Homo sapiens: one gene and its partners. The protein of the gene in region 3 interacts with the protein of the main gene of each other region in a biochemical or structural test. Each region holds a gene or a part of one and is shown on either strand. Other genes may lie near its edges.

Region 1 (3,500 bases), on a different chromosome or scaffold from region 3:
ATGCCCAGTCTTAAATTTTATTTTATATACCTAAATACAATCTCAATTTGTAACCATAACCATACAGTGCTTTAAAAATATTTTTTAAAATAGGTAACACTCATACATGTTATAAAATTCAAAAGGAGCCTGGGAAACAATACTATACCAAGTCTTTACAAAAATTTTTTAAAAAAATTAGCAGGGGTACAATGGCATGTGCCTGTAGTACCAGCTACTCCAGAGGCTGAGGTGGGAGAATCCCTTGAGCCCAGAAATTTGAGGTTGCAGTGGGCTATGATCATGCTACTGCACTCCAGCCTGGGCGACAGAGTGAGACCCTATCTCAAAAAAACAAAAGGTACAAACAATATATATCCTGCTCATTCTTTGCCTCTCTTCAGAGGCAAGCAAAGTTATTAGTTTCCTGTTTAGTCCTCGAGTAAATTATACACATATTTATGCTCTGCATTTAAATAATTTACATAAATTCTGGTGTAACAAACACACTGTTCTGTACCTTGCTGTTTTTCATTTACCAGCATCTCTTAGGGATTGTTCCATCCAACATATACACTCGAGCCCACCTTGTTCTCTTCAATGGCTGCATAGTATTACACTATATGGTTGCCATGTATTACTTTAAGTAAAAAAAATACCAGGAAGAAGGGGAATGGGATCGTATGTGATTTATCATCAGCAAATCAATATGGTTTATTCTTTTTTTTTTCTTGAGACGGAGTTTCACTCTGTCACCCAAGCTGAAGTGCAATGGTGCAATCTCGGCTCACTGCAACCTCTGCCTCTTGGGTTCAAGCCATTCTTCCAATCTCAGCCTCCCAAGTAGCTGGGATTACAGGTGTGCACCACCACACCGAGCTAATTTTTGTATTTTTAGTAGTGACAAGGTTTCGCCATGTTGCCCAGGCTGGTCTTGAACTCCTGACTTCAACCCATCTATAATCCCAGCCTCCCAAAGTGCTGGGATTACAGGCGTGAGCCACCACGCCTGGCCTAATGTAGTTTAGGTCTTTGACTGACCTGTCCCACTCCCCTGTGAAAAAATGAAATGAATGGAAGACAGAACAGACAAATGGAAGAAAGGAAGGGCAGGAGGCAGGCAGGCGGATTTACTGGCAGATATTCATATTCACGTACAACTATCTACTGTGAAGCTTCTTGAAGAAGATGCTAGAGCAGAGGTTAGCACACATTTCCTGTTAAGATCCAGACAGTAAATACTGGCTGTGGGCCATATGGTTGCTGCTGTAACTACTTTATTCAGATGATGTCGTGTGAAAGCAGAGATGGGCAATACCAAAACAAATGATGTGGCTGTATTCCAATGGTAATTATTCATAACAGGCAGCTGCTGATTTGGCCCACCGGTTGTAGTTTGCTTTCCTCTGCACTAGAATGTAAGTCCCATGAAGGCAGGAGATATTGTTAATTTTATTGACTGATGTATCCTCAGTAACTAGCATATAGTACTCTGCATATATGTGATCAGCTCTCATTAAATATTTACTAACTAAATGAAAGGCAGGGAAACCTCAACTGGAAATGACAAATAGCATCCTCAGAGAATAATCTTTGTCTTCTACTCAATCTCCCTTGATGATACATATTAGACAGCTAGCTATGAAGTTCTCATCGTGGAAGCATATGCTGGGATACTTTATTCTGAACCCTATGGACAACAGTTTTTACAGTGGTGGCTGAAGTGAAAATGTCATCTATCTCCTTGTTTAGTCAAAGTATATCAGTTCTTATTCATATATACCTGTTGGTGACATCTGTGATATAATGTTAAAACTTCAGGCCAGAAGCAGTGGCTCATGCCTGTAATCCCAGCACTTTGGGAGTCTGAGGCAGGTGGATCACTTGAGGCCAGGAGTTCAAGACTAGCCTGGCCAACAGGGTGAAACTCCTCCATCTCTACTAAAAATACAAAAATTAGCTGGGCGTGGTGGTGTGCGCCTGTAATCTCAGCTATTCAGGAGGCTGAGGCATGAGAATCGCCTGAAGCTGGAGACGGAGTTTGCAGTAAGCCGAGATAGCACCACTGCACTCCAGTCTAGGTGACAGAGTGAGATGTCTCAAAACAAACAAACAAACAAGCAAACAAAAAACCAACTTCAGCATAACTGGGAGAGAGAAAAGCAGTCCCTAACATCCAAGAGCTGGCCTGGCACTCATAGGTAAGATCAAGACAAAATCAAGACCACTCTGTAATCGTGGCTGAATATAGACAAAACATGAACATTGTCCAAGCCACAAAATACCAAACATTTCCCCATCCTGGCAAATGTGAGTGACTGTTCTACTTTGCTAATCATAGCTTTAGCCTCACTACAGATAAGATTTGAGATACAAAATCATAGAATTATCCCTGCTTCCCAACAGCATCTCATGTAGAGCAAAGTCCTGCTTCCTAAAACCCTCTTCAAAATCACCTAACAGGAGCCCAAATCCCTGAAGTCTTTTCTAACATTCTGCTACCAAAACACCAATGGTGCGTGTTCTCCCTTGCTGAAATGAATAATAAACCCAACTTGTTCAATGACAAATGTGTCCCTAGTGATTTTTGACTGGAGGGCACTGACATAATGGAAATTTGGATGCCATGACTCTGGTCCATACTACTAATGAGGATATTTGAAAAATGACCATGTTGTAAAGTCCCAAGGTCCCTAATGTATTATTACATATTATTGCATTTAAGACAAAATTTTACATAAAAGTTAGTTGTTGAATAGTATAATATGCATAATATAAACTACTGAAGCCGTAACAAAATCTAAGAGCATCTTACTGAGCTCGATGCTGGCTGGCTCACGGCTGAATTTCCAAAAATGGTGAGTCTGGCATTCAATTCTTCTGCAAGATGAGTTGGAACATCCAAGTTACTTGACGGTGGAGGTGATGGGAAGGCCTGGTTGCTATACATGGTGGCTTCATCTTCTCTTATAATTTCCCAGTTCTAAAATGAACAGAATAAGCTTGAGCCACACATACTTTATTGCTATAGCATGTGTCTTTCAAGGAGAACTAGGAAACTACTTATACCTCGGAAGACTCTCGGTTGTCAACACTTTCTGTTTCCTCGGATATCTGCCGCCTGGTGGTAAATGCACGTTGTGCTTGCAGTTGAATGTTGCCATTCTCAGCATCTGTTAGGTTGTCCCTATATTGGAAGTATAAAAAGCCATCATCCATGTCTTAAGTAGTTAAAATGATTGTCAAAGATTCTGTGATCATTGGGAAAAAAATCTACATTACATCAATAAAAAAATTTATTGTCTTTGACCAAAGGCTATTTCAACATGCAAAGATTCAATCATGGGTAGGCAGACTGGTATATTTAGAGTACCTTACGGAGTTTAAGGTTTTGTGAAAAGGTATAACATGTCTGATTTGATATTTTAGTTTGTCACTATGTCTAGGATAATGTCCAACACATATAGGTACTCAAAAATATTTGTTGAATGAATAAATATCAGAGCGCTTCATAGATTATT
Region 2 (3,500 bases), on a different chromosome or scaffold from region 3:
CCTGAGGTGGTCCTGAGAGTATCACAGGGGAGTTATCCTCTCCAAAACTGAGCTTTTGGATACGCTGAGCAACTGAAATTCCTAATTCTTTTTCTAAAATTTTGGGTGAAAAGGTTTGGAGATCACGCACACTATTGATACCCAGTGCTTCAAGACATTTGGCAGTTTTATAGCCAATACCTAAATAAAAAGAAATGCATACAATGTTAAAATAGCTTTTCTCCTTAAAACAAAGCTAATTAAAATATTATAAATATATCAATCTTATCTTTAAGTTCTATAATTTATACAGTAGTCCCCCCTTATCCACAGGGGATACATTCTAAGACCTTCAGTGGATGCCTGAAACCATGGACAGTATCAAACCCTATATATACAGTACTGTTTTTCCCATTACATATATACCTATGATAAAGTTTAATTTATAAATTAGGCACAGTAAGAGATTAACAATAATAATAAAACAGAACTATAACAATATACAATATACAAGTTATGTGAATGTGGTCTCTGCCTCTCTCTCTCAAAATATCTTATTATTTTCAGACCACAGTTGACTGCAGGTAATAGAAACTGTGAAAAGTGAAACTGCAGATAATGGGGGACTACTGTATTTTGCAAAGATCAAACCCCATTGCAAACTAGGTTGCTGTTCTTCCACTCAGGGCTCCTGAATTATATGCACCTCTTTGAAGTCCTCACAAAATGCAGTAAAATAAAATGAATACAGAGACAGCCAATAAATGCTGTCTTACTAAAACAAAAATTTTACCACCTGTTATGTAATATTCCAGAAATATTCAGAAATCATGATTATTATTAATATACAAAAAGGCTGCCACTAGAGCAATTAAAATAAATTAAGTGTACATATTAGGTAACCTAACTGATTCCTATACGCACCACCACACATTTATCCATAAGTCATATCTAACATTTACCATCCAGAATACAACTATGAGCCAGAAAGCAAACAAACAAAAAATCTTGCTAGCAAAACTGTCACAAAGTTCTTGCACTAAAATTCGGTCATACTTTATTCACAAGAGAAAACAGGCTATTTAATGTCTCCTTATTCTTTTCATTCAAAAACAGTAATTCCACAGTTATCTGGTTTTCTTGCACAGTAAAAGCAGTAAGTTGGAGGAGATGGCTATGTAGGGGGAACTATTAAAGTAGAGTGACAGATTTTTCACAGCAGAAAAAAAAGAAGGTTGGCAATTTGGCAATAAGTGAGAAAGGAGAAAGCCTGTTAAAAAAAAAAAAAAAAGATACAAGAACTCGAAAGTAAAGCCAAGTAAGAATGTTTTGCACCAGTATATAGTCCTCAGTTTATTACAACCTGACATTGTTCTTCAGAATGCACTACCAAAGTCATCCAAAAAACTTCAAATTATAGTTATACTATACTAAGGAAGGCAAGGCAGTGTATAATACATTTTGGAATCACGCAAGTATCAGTTAAAAATGTGAAGTATGACATCTAAGTTTCAGTGGTATTAGAAATTCACTTCCACAGAACTCTTTTATAACATCTTATTCCCTAGCAATACCACAGAAATGTAGTTCAACATATTGATGGCCTATAAAAACTTGGGTATTTAATCTTCAAAGATACAAACTTGCCCCATGACCTAAATAGGTCACCGAACTCCTCATGGAAATCAGTTTCCTAATCTTTAAAATGAGGACCTTGGCCTAGATGTTTTGGAAAGTCCATTGTAGCCTTAATATTTTATATGTAATCCCAAAAGAGTTAGTAAAAGACGAACTCCCCTCTCTAGAGGCAATGTACAGTATAAGAGTATGACCCAGGGACTGGAAATAAAGGACCATATGTTTCTAGGCTATAACTTTCATGACCATATTCTAACCATACAAAAGTAGATAAAATAAGAAAAGTACCTTCACATATTTCTTAATCCAAATTTGCTTGAGAAAACATTACAGTTTTTCTTAGTTTTTTCCAGGAACCAAGTATACACACACACACACATGCACACAAACTCACAGACAACTCTACCTAAGAATTAATTACATTGTATCTATAATTTTTTAAATTAAAAGAAATAAAATAAGACGTATATGTACTTTTCAAATATATTTGTCTTACCAGGTATTTCCTTTATGTGATTCAAACTATGAATAAGATGTTGACAACTTTCAGGTAATAAGACTGTTTGTTGATTTGGTTTAAAGACACCAGAAACTAATTTTGCCAACAGTTTATTAGAAGCCACTCCAGCACAGCCAGTGAGCCCCAACTGATTATACATGGCTTCCCGCATCTCTGCTGCAATCTGAGATCCAACAAGTAGTCTGATGTGCAAGACGTCAAGCAGGTTTATAGCTTTAAAAACAACAAATGTCATTCAAAGTCACAAGAAAAACCTTTTTCTTTTTCACAAAATAATTTTTAAAAGGTAGAGGGCTTAGTCTATATCCAACAACCACCACCACCACAACCACCACCATCATCACCTGGTATGGTTGTGATATTTGTCCCCTCCAAACCTCATGTTGTAATTTGATCCCCAGTGTTGGAGGTGGGGTCAAATGGGAGGTGTTGGGATCACAGGGGTGGATCCCTCATGAATAGATTAAAGCCCTCCCTCAGGGGTAAGTTTCTGACTGTATTAGTTCCAAAGACAGCTGGTTGTTAAAAGAGCCTGGCACCTCCCCCAGCCCTTGCTTCCTCTCTCACCATGTGATCTCTGCACACACTGGCTCCCTTTTGCCTTCCACCATGAGTGGAAACAGCCTGAGGCCCTCACCAGAGGCCTAACCTTGACTTTTCCAGCCACAAGAATCATGAACCAAATAAACCTTTTTTTCTTTATAAATTACCCAGTCTCAGGTATTCTGTTAAAGCAACACTAAATGGACTAAGAGATCACTGCCACCCTGTTATCCACTTGACTAATCTCTTTCATGCTTCATAGGAATACTGTAAACAAATTCAATAAGCAAATTCCAAGGGCCTGTGATAGTGACTGTGTAGTGGGAGTGCTTAATAATTAACACATTGTGAAAACTGATCTCATAAAAAAATTCCTACTGACATTGGCAAAACTTTTACTCATATTTACCCGTAAGTAGGCATAGAAGTATTATTATATAACAAGAAAGCTAACATTATACTTTAAAGATCTAAATCTTAACCACGCACTAGCAGTATATGCTGCTAGAAACAATCTCTGACCTGTACACAGTTTTAGAGCTCTTTTATGAAAAGTGTAAGAAAATTATATAAAAATAAATTTGCTTTAGGTGTAAAACAGTGTTGGAATGACATGAAACCATCCTAACCTCAAAGAGACTAACGCTAAAAGTATTTAGAGATGAAATGTCAGGATGTCTGCAATTTACTTCCAAATAGCTCATCAACCAACCAAGCAATCCATAGAGAGAACAAGAGAAAGCAAATGTGGCAAAACGATAACAACTGGTTTATCTACAAGAAAGGACATAATGGGCCAGGAGTAGTGGCTCATGCCTAT
Region 3 (4,298 bases):
CGTGGGCTGCACAACCTCTGTGCCTATTGTACCCACATTCTCAGTCTCTACTTCCCCTGGGATGGAGGTAAGGGGCAGATGGGAGGGGCAGCCCTGGGGAGAGTGGGCAGGGATCCAAGAACTAGTTCTCCTAACACACCTTCCTTCCTTGACCCTCAGCTGAGGTACCACCGCAACGCCAGACACCAGCAGGCCCAGAGACTGAGGAGGAGCCATACCGGCGCCGGAACCAGATCCTATCTGTGCTGGCAGGACTGGCAGCCATGGTGGGCTACGCCTTGCTCAGCGGCATTGTCTCCATCCAGCGGGCAACGCCTGCTCGGGCCCCAGGCACCCGGACCCTGGGCATGGCTGAGGAGGATGAAGAGGAATGATTTGTCCTCACGCTCCCAAGACTGGTTTTTCTACTCTCATGCATTCCAGAGGCCCCCGTGCCTCCTCGTTGTTGGTACAGCCGGACACGGGGTGCTGCCACCCAGAATAAAGCCACTCACACTGACTGGGCTCAAACATTTTCTCCTTTAAGAGCTGCCATTTTTCCTGGCTGGTGCCATAGGAATCATCTGGGTGCCTGGGCACACCCGCTGCTGCTTTAAGGCTTCCGCCCTGATGCTGACACTGCTGCTCCACGGGCCCAGTTCTGCATCTCCAGGAAAGACAAACAGTCTCCAGTTTTGGGCCCAGCTTTCCTAGTCTCTTCTTTTCCTTACCCTCAGCCCTGATCTTGTGTTTGTACGGACAGTGAGCTCACCCTAGGCCTGGACCCAGGCCCAGTTTCCAAAGCAAGCAGCACACAGCGCATGTTCACATAAGCATGGGGGCTGGGGGGACACTGGGGCTTACTGATCTTTTTCTAGGGGCCTCCAGCCCCTGGCACCACCTAGAGGGGAAAGTGAGTCACCCAAACCATTGCCCCTGGGCTTACGTCGCTGTAAGCTCACACTGGCCCTGCTGTGCCCTCTTTAGTCACAGACAGCGTGTGAGCTGACTCTGTCCCTTTAATGCCCAGGCTGAGCCCAGTGCCTCCTTGAGTATCTGCTCCATCACTGGCGACGCCACAGGTAGGTGTGAATGGAGTAGCCAGGTGAGATTGTCTCCAGGAAGCCCACAGCAGGATCCTTGATGGTAAGAGGCACATCCTTAGAGGAGCTAGGGAGCAGGGAGGAGAAGCTGAGAGTGTGATCCTGCCAAGGCCCCCAACGCTGTCTTCAGCCCACTTCCCAGACCTCACCATTGCCCTCACCGGTTTAGCACGACCACAACAGCAGAGCCATCGGGATGCATCAGTGCCACTGCGTCCAGGTCGTTCTTCTGACTGGCAACCAGCCCCACTCTCTGGGAGCCCTCAGGAATGAACTTGCTGAATGTGGGAACAGATGGTCAGAGTCCCTCGGGGTACCTCCCATGAAACCCTCATCTAAGAAGTCACCCACCCACGGACCCACCCCATAACTCCTGCAGAGGCTCTGCCCTGGCTCTCTAGGCCTGGAGCCATGCTGCTGGGCACTGACCCTGCTTTTCTGCATCGCAGTCCAGCCTCAGGCATTGGGGTTTTCTGTTGCTACCTAGTCACTTCCTGCCTCCATGGTGCAAAAGGGGATGGGTGTGCCTCTTCCGAGGTTCCACCCTGAACACCTTCCTGCTCCCTCGTGGTGTAGAGTGATGTAAGCCATCCGATGTAGGAGATGATAGGCCTGGTATGGAATGGGGGTGCCCGCCCTCCACTCACCTGAAGTGGCCAAGGTGGTAGAACATGGGCTGTTTGTAAAACGTGTCCTTGGTGATGTCTACAATGATGGGACTGTCGACAAAGTTACGCACCCAATTGGGTCCTCCTTCGGGGTTCAGGGCAAGGTTCCAGTCGGTCCAGCCGACCACATGGTACAGGAGGTTCTAGGGTAAGGACAAAGGCAAAGAGACAAAGGCGCAACACTGGGGGTCCCCAGAGAGTGTAGGTAAGGGTCACATGTGGGAGAGGCAGCTGTGGGTAGGTCAGCCCTGTGAGGGGCACATTCCTTAGTAGCTAAGGAGTTGGGGGTGTGAAGATCCAGGCATCTCAAGGGGAGCTGAGAAGTCTGAGGCAGCTGCAAGTGCCTCAGTAGTTGCAAAAGGGGCAATGAGGTGTGCAGACCTGTGAAGGAAAGGGAAGATAGGGAATCATGGTTCCCCAGAGTTGCTCAAAAGGGCAGGCTAGCTGGGGAAAGCTGGACAGGAAGGGCTTCTGTCAGTCTTTGGTGAAACTAGTAAGAGGTCTGAGGTCTGCTTTGCAGGAAGGGAGACTGGGGTGGCTTACCGTGATGATGCTGTGGCTGTACTGCATCCCTCGATCCCAGGAGCCTAGCCGCACACTCTGCTCCCAGAACTTGGAGCCCACACAGGCCTCTGAGGCAAAGAGCATGGTGTTGGGGAACAGGCGGTGTGTCTCCCCTAGGGTGGCTTTGGCTGGAGCCAGAAAGTCCAGGTACCAATGTACAGCAATGCCATGAACATATTTAGCTGCTTCTGGGTCTGTCAGTACCTGCAAAGGAAGAGCAACTGATCCTGGACCTTGCACACAGGCTTCTGGAACTTCTAGTTCCTGTTGTAGGAATCCTGGAGTTGGGTGACGGGAAGAATGCAACTAGAGAGGTTTGGGGAGATTTTTTTTTGTTTTTGAGACAGGATGTCACTCTGTCACTCGGGCTGGAGTACAGTGGCGCAATCACGACTCACTGCAGCCTTGACTTCCTAGGGTCAACTGATCCTCCCACATTAGCCTCCTGAGTAGCTGGGACTACACGGGTGCCACACCCAGCTAATTTGTGTGTGTATGTGTGTGTATGTATGTGTGTGTGTGTATATATATATACATATAAACACATATATATGTATATACACATACATACATGAACCACCACCCCCAGCCTAGATAGTTTTGTTTTGTTTTGTTTCGAGATGGAGTCTCGCTCAGCCTCCCAGGCTGGAGTGCAGTGGCGCGATCTCGGCTCACCGCAACCACCATCTCCCGGGTTCAACTGATTCTCCCTTCTCAGCCTCCTGAGTAGCTGGGATTACAGACACCCACCATCATGCCCAGATAATTTTTTTTTTTTGTATTTTAGTAGACACAGGGTTTCAACACGTTGGCCAGGGTGGTCTTAAACTCCTGACCTCAGGTGATCACCCGCCTCGGCTTCCCAAAGTGCTGGGTTTGCATGAGTGAGCCACCTCGCCCAGCCCCTAGAAAGGTTTCAAGCGACAACTGTGGGATCCATGGCACCCTGGAGGTCCAGGGGAATGGTGCTCTAGGAATCCATAGTTGGGTAGAGAAATCGCTCTAAGTTTGGGAGCCAGTCATTTGGATGCTGGATTTGAAGGTCACTGGAGCACCATGGAGGTCCAGGCCTTACCACCTTTGCCCAGTGGGGCAGCAGCAAGCGTTGGTCATCCAGCATGAGTAGGCGGACATTGTGGTGAGTACTGTTGGCGAGGGTAGGACCTAGGTCACGGGCAATGAAGTCTCGCTGATGTTCAGGGGTGAAGCCCAGGCACTGGAAGGGGTATCCACTCAACAGCCCAGCAGAAGGCTCATTTTCAGCTGTCACTGCCCAGAACTGTAACTTGTGCTCAGCATAGGCATCCAGGAACCTGGCAAGAGAAAGGTCATGAATGATCCGGCCAAGAAAGTGGACCAGACCAGCTGGGTGTGGTGGCTCACACCTGTAATCCCAGCACTTTGGGAAGCCGAGGCAGGTGGATCACTTGAGTTCAGGAGTTCGAGAACAGCCTGGCGAAACCCCGTCTCTACTAAAAATAGAAAAATCAGCTGGGCCTGGTGGCAGGCGCCTATAATCCCAGCTACTTGGAAGGCTGAGGCAGGAGAATTGCTTGAACTCAGGAGGCAGAGGTTACAGTGAGTGAAGATGGCGCCACAGCACTCCAGCCTGGGTGACAGAGAGAGAGACTCCTTCTCAAAAAAAAAAAAAAGAAGAAAAATAAAAAGAAAGTGGGCCAGACCGAGAGAACAGGAAGCCTGATGGAGTGGGCAAGATTGACAGGCCCAAGGCTGAAAGGCCCAGAAGGTAGAAAGGTGAGCTGAGGACAGGCAGATCTGGAAGTGGAACTAGGTTGAGGGTTGGGACACAGATCAGCATGGCTAAATGGGAGGCCAGTCCTGATCCCACATCCTTGCTGATCCCTTACTTCACAAAGTATCTGGCCCAGGTCTGGTGGTAGATGTCTCCGGGCTGTCCCTTGAGTGACCCCTTCCCATTCACCGCTCCATTGGTCTTGAGCCAAGTGGGTGATGTCCAGGGGCT
Region 4 (3,500 bases), on a different chromosome or scaffold from region 3:
GTTTTGAGGAAGTGCTTGGGGAAGTGATATAGTGGCTGGAAAAGTACTACTGGTGTCCAGTCTATTCCAAATGACTGTGCAATCTTGGACTACCCACTTCCTCTGTAGATTTCTGTTTCCTCATCTCTACAATCAGAAGATTGATCTGAACAGAGGGTCTGTCAATGGACTTCCCATTAAGCTCTTTGATGTGCGTATGTGAGTGCGCATTTTTCTGAAGCTAAGAGGGTCTATAGCTTCTATTAGCCCGTGAAAAGGGTCGGAGACACAAAACTGATTAATTGCCTGTGTACTAATTTAATCTGAGGTCCCTCTTAACTTGTGAAATCTTACGAAGCTATAAATAGAATTAAAATTTTAGATGGAAACCAGGAATTAATATAATTATTATCCCTAATAAGATTATTTGAAAAGCATATTTTGTACAAAGGGGTACCACCATGACCAACCATGCATTCAAACATTAGCTGAAGAACTTCACTAGAAGCCCAGTAAGGATTTGCCATCATTAGCATCCATTGCACCAGACACTAGACATGTAAGTACATGTAGTAAATCTAAATATATCACAGATATTTTTGTTCTGCCTTTTTATTATCAGAGTTTTAATGGGCTATCAAGGTAAGGCTGCTACTTAGGATTACATGAAGTGGAAACAACCCAGAATAGTTTGCCAGCAAATAAAACTTCTTTCTCACAATTTTCAAGATATTCATCCAAAATCATTTTGATTGTAACTTTTGGATAGCTGAATAGCACTGTTCTTATACTAAGCATATGATTATAAAAGACCCAGAAATGAAAGTTGTTGTGCTTACTCACTTCCTTCCCTCCTTAATTTAATAAATGTTTGTTAATTGTCTACTGTAAGTTGGAAACTCTCCCAGACACTTGTGAAATATCAATGAACAAAATAAATATATTTCACTCTCATGGTGCCTACATTCTAGAAGGGAGAAATAAAATAAAAATCATACATTAAAGTAAGCACATTATGTATTATATTTAAAGGTGAATAACACTTTGGCAAAGAAAGGAAAAAGAAAGAAAAGGAAAGAAGGAAGGAAGGAAGCAAGAAAGAAAAAAGAGAAAGAAAGAAAGGGAGGAAGGAAGGGAGGGAGAGAGGGAGGAAGGAAGGAAGGGAGAAAGGAAGGAAGGAAGGGAAAAGAAAGAAAGGAAAGAGAGAAAGAAGGAAAGAAAGAAAGAAAAAGAAAAAGAAAGAAAGAAGGAAAAAAAGTAGGGAGACTGGGAATACCAGAGGTGAGAAGAATGGCTCCAATTTTATATAGATTAGGGCAGGCCTCCCCAAGAACGTGTCAGGGCAAGGGTATGCTTGATTTATTCAAGAAATAGCAAGGAGGTCATTGTGGCAGGGAAAAAGCAAAAATTATTTTGCTGTTGTAGTGGTGATGTTTGTGAAACTTCAACGTTGTTGACACCTCATACTGTATTAGTTCCATATTTAAAATGAAAGTTATAATATCTTTGGTATAATCTTATTCGTGTCCCATGTTTGTCAAAAAAATTCAGTCAAAATTCTTCTCAGAATTTTAAAATCTACCTCAAAACTATATCTCTGGTTGGTATGTATTTTAAGTCTCTCATTTCCCACAAATATGTATTTGGCAATGAACTGTTATGTAATATGCAGATATGCCATTTAATAAGAGATGATGTCACTATAAAGAAATAAGTAAAAGAACTTTATTTTGGAAATTAGGAAATTAGGCACAAAGGGATTTGTTACTCCAAGGAAGAGAAATTCCAAGACTTACAATTAACATGAAAGCCCTCATTCTTTCTGAAATGTCACTGTTCCTTTGGCATTTTACTACATTTTTTGTTTCATTAACTTTCTTCCAGAAATTGAAACAATCATAATAATTATAAAATTTGCATGGCATTTATCTGGGTTAATGCCTGAAACAAGCAAGACCAATATAAAGGTAGCACTTTTTCACAAGGGGAGGGTCAGGTAGCCGTTCCCCACAGTAAGTATCTTGCTCCTGCCTCCAGGCCTCACATGAAAATGAACCGTAATCTCACCAGCTTATAAATGTAACACAAAACGTACACAGCCATACCTTGCCCAACTGGTCCTTTTTGACAAAGCCAGTGGCTGCTGCAATGCTCCCTGCTCCCTCCACTGTCTTCTGGGCTACTGCTGTCACACCCGTCACCACTGCTCCTCCAACATTTGTCACTTGCTCTTTGGTCTTCTCAGCCACTGGTACAAATAAAGAGCAACAACAGATTAAAGGGTGGTAGAATAACAGTGACTTAAAATCATTCCACTTCCACTAGCCATCGGCTTCCATACACCTGTATCTACACATGCCATAGATAACTGAGTGGTCAGAAGAAACAAAAGCCACCAAGATGTCCAAGTGAGTGTGGTTCAACCAAACATTGAATCTTGGCTAAGATATTTTGGCTAAAGTCATGCAGTATTAAAAAGTGCTTCAAGTTTAACGATCAGGAATGTAAAGCCATGAGTGATTTGGATTTGGTTTATACTATGGAAAGTTTACAGAAAGCAATTCTTACAGGTGCAGTTATATTTGAACCAGACTCAGCATGAATATTTCTTTATTTCAATTCAGTGCCAATCCTTTGATCTCACTCAGCAAGTTAATTTCCACCACACCTTCTAAGCAACACAATACATACTTCTATTTATTTATTTATTTGAGATGGAGTTTCATTCTTGTTGTTCAGGCTGGAATGCAATGGCACAATCTCAGCTCACAGCAACCTCCGCCTCCTGAGTTCAAGCTATTCTCCTGCCTCAGTCTCCCGAGTAGCTGGGATTACAGGTGCCCACAACCACACCTGGCTAATTATTATTATTATTATTATTTGTATTTTTAGTAGAAACAGGGTTTCATCATGTTGGCCAGGCCGGTCTCGAACTCCTAACCTCAGGTGATCCACCCGCCTTAGCCTCCCAAAGTGCTAGGATTATAGGCATGATCCACCGCACCCAGCCCCTACTTATTATCTACGTGTTCAGACGTGGTATTATCACATATGTACGAATAACAGCATAAGAAACGGTTGTGAAGGAACTTGGATCTTTTTATAGAACTTCAGGTAGTGAAACAAAGGGTTCTTAAAAAGCTAAATTTGCAGTAATTTTAATAGGAGCACAGGAGCTAGACAGTATGAAAATGAAGAGGCTATTGAGCACCCTTACAATTTCTTTTCATAAAACAAAATGAGATACGGTCATTCAGTAGATTTATTAAAATAAGTTAACATTTTTGAGAAGACAGTGTAAATAGTTTGAATTGAGTTTACAAGCAGAAGTTTAATTTCATGTCAAAAACTTTCTTGTTCAGTTAAATAAGCCAGAAACAGAAAGGCAAACAACCACATGATCTCACTCATGTGGAATCTAAAGAAAAAGAAAAGTTGATATCATAGAAGCAGAGAGGAGAACAGTGGAGGAGAGTGGAGGATGGGGACACTCATCTAAGGAAATGAAGGCACATTTTCTT
Region 5 (3,500 bases), on a different chromosome or scaffold from region 3:
GGCTGAGGCATGAGAATGGCTTGAACCCGAGAGGCAGAGGTTACAGTGAGCCAAGATTGCGCCACTGCACTCCAGCCTGGGCAACAGAGCAAGACTGTGTCTCCAAAAACAAAAAACAAAAACAAAAAAAAACACACACACCGAAAAGGTATTTGATTAAGACACTGAGTAATTGTATGTTTATTAAAGACTGATAAAGAACACTTCATCTGCTGGGCGCGGTGGCTCATGCCTGTAATCCCAGCACTTTGGGAGGCCAAGGCGGGCAGATCACTTGAGGCCCGGAGTTCAAGACCACCCTGGCCAACATGGCGAAACCCCGTCTCTACTAAAAAATACAAAAAATTAGCCGGGCATGGTGGCTCACGCCTGTAATCCCAGCTACTCAGGAGGCCGAGGCAGGAGAATTGCTTGAACCTGGGAGGCGGAAGCTGCAGTGAGCTGAGATCGTGCCACTGCACTCCAGCCTGGGCGACAGAGCGAGACTCTGTCTCAAAAAAAAATAAAGAAAGAACACTTCATCTTCACTTAGATGACAACTCTGTAGTAAACACGGCATGATGCATTTAATTTAGATTGTCTATAGTGATAGATGTCCACCCCAAGAACTTTTAAACTTTATAATAGAAATGTTTAAACATATACAAAAGCAGAGGAACATTACGTCCAAGTCTCCATTATCCATTTTCAACAATTCATATATCATGTTTGATCTTATTTAATCTATACTCCAACTTACTCCCCCTCTTCGCAGATCATTTTGAAGCAAAGCCCAGACATATTCCATTCAAAAATACTTCAATATGTATCTCAGGGACAACACAAGAATGCTTTTTCCTCCCAACCTAACCACAATACCATTATCATACCTAACAGAAAAAAAAAAAAAAAAGACAGCAATTCCTTCATATTAAATATCAGCTGGGCGTGGTGGCTCATGCCTGTAATCCTAGCACTTTGAGAGGCCGAGGCAGGCAGACTGCCTGAGCTCAGGAGTTCAAGACCTGGGAACATGGCAAAGCCCTGTCTCCACTAAAAATACAAAAAGCTAGCCGGGCATGATGGCGCACGCCTGTAGTCCCACCTACTCCGGAGGCTGAGGCAAGTGAATCCCTTGAGCCTGGGAGGTGAAGGTTGCAGTGAGCCAAGATCACACCACTGCACTTCAGCCTGGGCGATCAAGTGAGACCCTGTCTCAAAAAAAAAAAAAAAAAAATCCATTCAGTGCTCCAATTTCTCATTAACTGAGTCAGGATCCAAATAAGACAGATATAATTTGTCAATGTGCCTCTCTGAGTTTCTTTTAATCCTTTAAAAGTTTGTGTGTTTATTTATTTATTTTTGGAGACGGAGTGTCACTCATTATTTATTTTTGGAGACGGAGTGTCACTCACTCTGTCGCCCAGGCTGGAGTGCAGTGGCACGATCTTGGCTCACCGCAACCTCCTCCTCCTCCCGGGTTCAGGCAATTCTCCTGCCTCAGCCTCCTAAGTAGCTGGGATTACAGGCACACGCCACCGCACCGCACCCAGCTGTTTTTTTTTTCTTTTGTATTTTGAGTAGAGATGGGGTTGCACCATGTTGGCCAGGCTGGTCTCGAACTCCTGACCTCAAGTGATCCACTCGCCTCAGCCTCCCAAAGTGCTGAGATTACAGGGGTGAGCTACCGCACCCGGCCTAAAAGTTTAATTTAAATCTCCATTTTTATTACAATTTGTTGAAGTAAGAAGGTCAGCTTCCCAAAGTTTGAATTTTGCTGACTGCATCCCTATGGTGTCCTTTAACATGTTTCCTGTCCCGTGTATATCTCCTGTAAATTGGTAGGTAGAACCAGAAGCTTAATTAGGTTTGTGTTCTTTTCTCTTTGTGCAAGACTACTTCACTGGTGAAATTGTTTACCACAAGGTACTTAATACCTGATTGTATCTCGTTTTTGTCACTGATAAATGCTTTAACTTTTTTTTTATTTTTTGAGATGGAGTCTTGCTCTGTCGCCCAGGCTGGAATGCAATGGTGCAATCTCAGCTCACTGCAACCTCCACCTCCCAGGTTCAAGAGATTCTCCTGCCTCCGCCTCCTGAGTAGCTGGGATTACAGGCTCCTGCTACCATGCCTGGCTAATTTTTGTATTTTTAGTAGAGATGGGGTTTTGCCATGTTGGCCAGGCTGGTCTCGAACTCCTGACCTCAGGTGATCCACCTGCCATGGCCTCCCGAAGTGCTGGGATTACAGGCGTGAGCCACCAAGCCCGGCCTAATAAATGCTTTCACTATTAATGGTGATATTCTATCATTCCTTCTTCACTTATTAGCTAGAATGCTTTTATAAAGAAAAGCTTCCCCCATCAACTATTGGGTTACTCTATGGTCTAGTTCATACAGGAGAGGGAAGACATATGCTTTATTCTTTTAATTTTTAAATTTAAAGTTGATATATAATTGTGTATATTTATGGCATACAATGTGATGGTTTGATCCACGTATACATTTTAGAAAGAGTCAACCAAGCTAATTAACATAGCCATCACCTCACTAACTTATTTTTTTGTGGTTGAGGACATTAAAAACCTATTCTTTTTGCAATTTTGAAATATACATTATTAACAACTGTGGTCACCATGCAGTACTACAGATCACTAAAACTTATTCCTCCAGTCTAACTGAAACTTTGATCAATATCTCCCTTTTCCCCATCCCTCCTCCACCCCCCCAAGCCTCACCACCCTTCTACTCTCTGTTTCTATGAAATCAACTTTTTTAGATTCCACAAATAGGTGACATAATACAGTATCTACTTTCTGTGCCTGGTTTATTTCACTTAGCATAAAGCACAGATAACAAAAGCAAAAATATGCAATGAGATTGCATCAAACTAAAAAGCTTCTGCACAGTAAAGGAAACAATTACACAGAGTGAATAGGCAACCCCGGATTAGGAGAAAGCATTTGCAAACTATACAACTGATAAAGGGTTAAGAAGCTCAACTCAGTAGCAAATACGCCCATTAAAATACGGGCAAAGGATCTAAACAGACATTTCTCAAAAGAAGAGGTACAGGCCAGACACAGTGGCTCATGTCTGTAATCCTATCACTTGGGGAGACCAAGGTGGGAGGATCACTTGAGCCCAGGAGTTCGAGGTTGCAGTGAGCTATTATGGCGCCACTGCACTCCAGCCTGGGCAACAGAGCAGGACCTCATCTCAAAAAAACAAAACAAAACAAAACAAAAAAAACAAATGGCAAGCAGATATATAAAAAATATGCTCAACATCACTAATCATCAAGGAAATGCAAAATAAAACCATGAGTTAGCATCTCACACTTGTTAGTATAGCTATCATCAAAAGGACGAATAATAACAAGTGTTAGTGAGGATGTAAAGAAAGGGAAGCCTTGTAACTGATGGGGGAAGTATAAATTGGCACAGCCATTTTGGGAACTAGTATAGAGGTTCCTCAAAAACTTTATTCTTCTCTTTTTAACCAGTTTTCCAAATTAAT
Region 6 (3,500 bases), on a different chromosome or scaffold from region 3:
GACACATCCGCCTCTGTCTCCCAAAGTGCTGGGATTACAGGCATGAGCCACCGTGCCCTGCTGGGCATTGCTGAATTTAAGCCAGTTTTGTGAGCCTTGGTTTTCTAAATGATTTGAATACTGTTTACTTTTTGTGGTATAATATAGAGAGTTTACATGCTAAGTTCTTAAGTTCATTGAAGGTATTAGTAAGGGCATGAGAAATAACACAGGAGTAGAATTAGGTGGATCTAACATAAGCTATATAAAAGTCAACAGAACAATTTATTTGAGTTAAAAAGAGGAGGGCTGCTGCCCCAGACCTCACCTTTAGTTTCATATGGGCCGGTTTCTGATGACAAATGGAATGAATCATAATTTTTAATTGTTTTGGGCATTTATTTTTCACAAAGTTGTCTAGCTTTGAATGTATGTAGTTTTCTTTCAGAATGAGTTGTTTAATTATCAAGGAATGCAACAAGCTATATTTTAAATTTTAAAATGAAATAAAGTAGAAAACGTGATTTAATTAAAACATCAGTCTGCAACGATCTTTAAGAAAATAAGAATGTAGAGGACCTGAATGACATAATTTATATTTCCTGTAGCTGTTAAATTCCACACCCCAAAAACAGAACGTTACACCTCTTTTTTAGAATAACTATGGAATGATTTGAAAAATAGTCTCATTTCTGAAGAAAAAAGAGTTGAACTCTGAGATCTGTTAGTAGAAATATAACAAAAACAAAAGCAACTCTTAGAAATTAAATCTCTAATAAACTCATTGGTTAAAGCAAAATTTTAGTCTGCAATGGGAGAATATCTAGGAAAAATTAAAATTAAATCACAATATATACAAGGCAGGAAAATCACATGATCCTGGGAGGCGGAGGTTGCAGTGAGCCGAGATAGTGTCGCTGCACTCCAGCCTGGGCGATAGAGCAAAACCCTGTCTGAAACACCAAAAAATAAAAAATAACAACAACAACAACAAAAACACAATGTATAAAAAATCTTACAAAGTTCAGCTTAGCTACAACTTTAGAAAATATGCTTCTTGAAGTATATGTGTCCTTTCATTACTAAAAGTGAAGACTAATAACACTTGAAAGGCTCACCTAGAGTTTTGTTTTTTTGTTATTTTTTTTTAAGAAATTCATCTATTCTAATAAGTCTTTAGAACATATTATTACTTTCAGATTAGAACCTTAAAAACAAAAATGATATGAGGGATCCAGGAACTATTTCCTTTCTTAAGAAGCTAATTTCTTACCTTCTTTTAAGACTCTTTTCATGAATTCTGGAAAGATGGAAGAAGAAGTGATACAGAAAAGAGAAACCTTAGGTCCTCTTTTGGAACAGATGGTTGTACTTGTATGATATCTTAAGAAATTTATGGCATCCTTACAGATTGAGTTAGAATTATTTTGTGAGATTTTCAGTGACTCATTTCTAAGTTCTTTTGAGATGGTGTTTGGAATAAAAGCCTTAAACTTTTTTTTAACAAGTAAATTTGGTATTAATGAAACTTTTTTCTAGATTTTCATTGGTATATGCTCTTATGTGGAAAGTGGATATCAGCTATGAATTACATAAATTGCATTTGTTACATTAATATCTCACCCGAATGGCAGCAGTTTTCTGGATATCAACATGTGTTTGTTTTTTATTGCTTATGTAAATCTCATGTAACCATTCCCCAAGGTCTAAAAAATAATCTAACTGAAAACAGTTTTTTCATGTTCCTCAAACTTGCTTTTAGAATAGTGCTGGCATAAGGATTTGATTTATTGTAAATATGATGCACCATATCAATCATGGAATTATTTGAATGTTTTTTGGAACTTTTGTGGTAAATTCCATATTTCTCCAGGACTTTTTTGTGTTCTTTCTGTTGACAAGTACTTTAAAGTTTTAGCAAGTATCACTATGTTGATTTCATGTAGGTTTATTTATTGTTTAGTGCTTGAAATGATTTTCTGTGTAAAATCAGTTTGAGAATTGGTTCGTCTGTCTCTGCATTTGCTGTGTTTACCTGAATTTTAAGTACAAATTGGAAATCGGTATCAGTGTGGGAATCATCAATTGTCTTTTCCGTAAACTTTTAAAGCCATTACAGTCACATTATGTATTAAAAGTGTGTTTAGATCTAAAGTCTAAATTTGCTTTTTGTTAAAATGTAGCATATTTGAATATCTGCACTAAAATTGCTGAAAAATGTGTTACTGCTTAAGCAACCTTAACAACGCTGTGCAATTATGACTACTGGTGATAATAAACTCTTCGGTATTGCGGGGCGGGGGTGGTTCTGAGAGGCAATTTCTTTTTGCCAGATTATTTAGTAGAATAATAATTAAAATTTATAAATATTTGGAAAAAGGGTAGGGTCAACAATGAATTGTGGGAAGCTTTAAGAAATATATAAAAATATTTCATTTTCAGTATTGTATTTGCATCTCAGTTTCCTGATAGATTTCTGTTTTGATTTTCTGCTGACAGGTCACATTTAGGGCAGGCAAAACATAAGGGATATAGCCCTCCTGAGAGTAGAAAATCTAATTCTAAGGCACCCAAAGTGCAGTCTAATACTACTTCTGAACTGTCAAGGGGACACCTTTCTAAAAGGTAAATCTTCATGTTGCTTATACATTTTCAAGGCAGAATTATTTGCATTCAAATCATTGCATAATGTTAAAACTTGAGGTTATTCCAAAACGTTTTGATACATATTTTCATTATTCTCTAAGTAACTTTTAGGATTGACAGTTTATCACCTTTGCAGTGATTAGTGCAGTATACCCTAGACAGTGAGTTTGTCAATGATAAAATGATATTTTTGTTTGGAGAGCCGTAAGATTCCCCCTTTGCTTAACAAACCATTATGGCCATTTTTTATTTCTTTTTATTTTTTAATCTTTTTTTTAGTTTTTATTGTCAGAGCCATAGTTTAGGTTTAAGTCAGTGATTCTTAAGATTTAATTGTTAAGAGACTTTGGAAAGCAATGTTAACTTTGAAGATTTGATAGTACTACAATATAAAAATCTCTAACCTTCATTTTGAAAGTGCGTATGTTAATGCTTATTTCTTCTAAGCTTTGACAAAGCAGTTGTGCTTGTGAATAGGGCATCAATATTCTGGCTTCCTCTGGTTCCGAACAATTAAGTGTTGTTTTTCTTGTAATCTTAATTCTTGTTTTGTGATTACGAGTGTTAGTGTCAGTAATCTTTGGGCTAAAGAACACCCTTATCTTTTAATCAGATATTTTAGTATCCAAAGTCACATCTGCTTTTGTTTTGTTCTTTTATTTCGTTTTACAGATTTGAACCTTCTGAAAACCTATGTTTAATACTGGACTTAGTAGGAACATATTCATACTTTATTTTTTGAAAGCATTATATATGACAGTTGTAATTATGACAGGCTGATATTAACTGTTTTCTTATCTAACCTCTTAGAAGCTGCAGTTCATCATCTGCTGTGATAGTTCCACAACCAGAGGATCCAGACAGAGCCAATACTT

The links.
Region 1: of the proteins of GBA1 (region 3) and NEDD4, one has a biochemical effect on the other in vitro, tested with the Homo sapiens proteins (one large-scale study listed by BioGRID).
Region 2: the proteins of GBA1 (region 3) and POLI form a complex in vitro, tested with the Homo sapiens proteins (one large-scale study listed by BioGRID).
Region 4: the proteins of GBA1 (region 3) and SNCA form a complex in vitro, tested with the Homo sapiens proteins (2 studies listed by BioGRID).
Region 5: the proteins of GBA1 (region 3) and OGT form a complex in vitro, tested with the Homo sapiens proteins (one large-scale study listed by BioGRID).
Region 6: the proteins of GBA1 (region 3) and TRIP12 form a complex in vitro, tested with the Homo sapiens proteins (one study listed by BioGRID).

Annotation. Positions count from the first base shown.
Region 1 is NC_000015.10:55,857,613-55,861,112, forward strand, and holds part of NEDD4 (E3 ubiquitin-protein ligase NEDD4), read right to left. Parts: intron 3,167-3,500; coding exon 3,049-3,166; intron 2,963-3,048; coding exon 2,795-2,962; intron 1-2,794. UniProt on the Homo sapiens protein: E3 ubiquitin-protein ligase which accepts ubiquitin from an E2 ubiquitin-conjugating enzyme in the form of a thioester and then directly transfers the ubiquitin to targeted substrates. Specifically ubiquitinates 'Lys-63' in target proteins.
Region 2 is NC_000018.10:54,279,517-54,283,016, reverse strand, and holds part of POLI (DNA polymerase iota isoform a (long)), read right to left. Parts: intron 2,351-3,500; coding exon 2,114-2,350; intron 181-2,113; coding exon 2-180; intron 1-1. UniProt on the Homo sapiens protein: Error-prone DNA polymerase specifically involved in DNA repair. Plays an important role in translesion synthesis, where the normal high-fidelity DNA polymerases cannot proceed and DNA synthesis stalls. Favors Hoogsteen base-pairing in the active site.
Region 3 is NC_000001.11:155,233,952-155,238,249, forward strand, and holds the end of GBA1 (lysosomal acid glucosylceramidase isoform 1 precursor), read right to left. Parts: coding exon 4,183-4,298; intron 3,628-4,182; coding exon 3,390-3,627; intron 2,519-3,389; coding exon 2,294-2,518; intron 1,894-2,293; coding exon 1,730-1,893; intron 1,361-1,729; coding exon 1,244-1,360; intron 1,150-1,243; coding exon 1,044-1,149; 3' UTR 501-1,043; downstream 1-500. UniProt on the Homo sapiens protein: Glucosylceramidase that catalyzes, within the lysosomal compartment, the hydrolysis of glucosylceramides/GlcCers (such as beta-D-glucosyl-(1<->1')-N-acylsphing-4-enine) into free ceramides (such as N-acylsphing-4-enine) and glucose.
Region 4 is NC_000004.12:89,820,162-89,823,661, forward strand, and holds part of SNCA (alpha-synuclein), read right to left. Parts: intron 2,228-3,500; coding exon 2,085-2,227; intron 1-2,084. UniProt on the Homo sapiens protein: Neuronal protein that plays several roles in synaptic activity such as regulation of synaptic vesicle trafficking and subsequent neurotransmitter release.
Region 5 is NC_000023.11:71,550,104-71,553,603, reverse strand, and holds part of OGT (UDP-N-acetylglucosamine--peptide N-acetylglucosaminyltransferase 110 kDa subunit), read right to left. Parts: intron 1-3,500. UniProt on the Homo sapiens protein: Catalyzes the transfer of a single N-acetylglucosamine from UDP-GlcNAc to a serine or threonine residue in cytoplasmic and nuclear proteins resulting in their modification with a beta-linked N-acetylglucosamine (O-GlcNAc).
Region 6 is NC_000002.12:229,859,510-229,863,009, reverse strand, and holds part of TRIP12 (E3 ubiquitin-protein ligase TRIP12), read left to right. Parts: intron 1-2,478; coding exon 2,479-2,604; intron 2,605-3,435; coding exon 3,436-3,500. UniProt on the Homo sapiens protein: E3 ubiquitin-protein ligase involved in ubiquitin fusion degradation (UFD) pathway and regulation of DNA repair.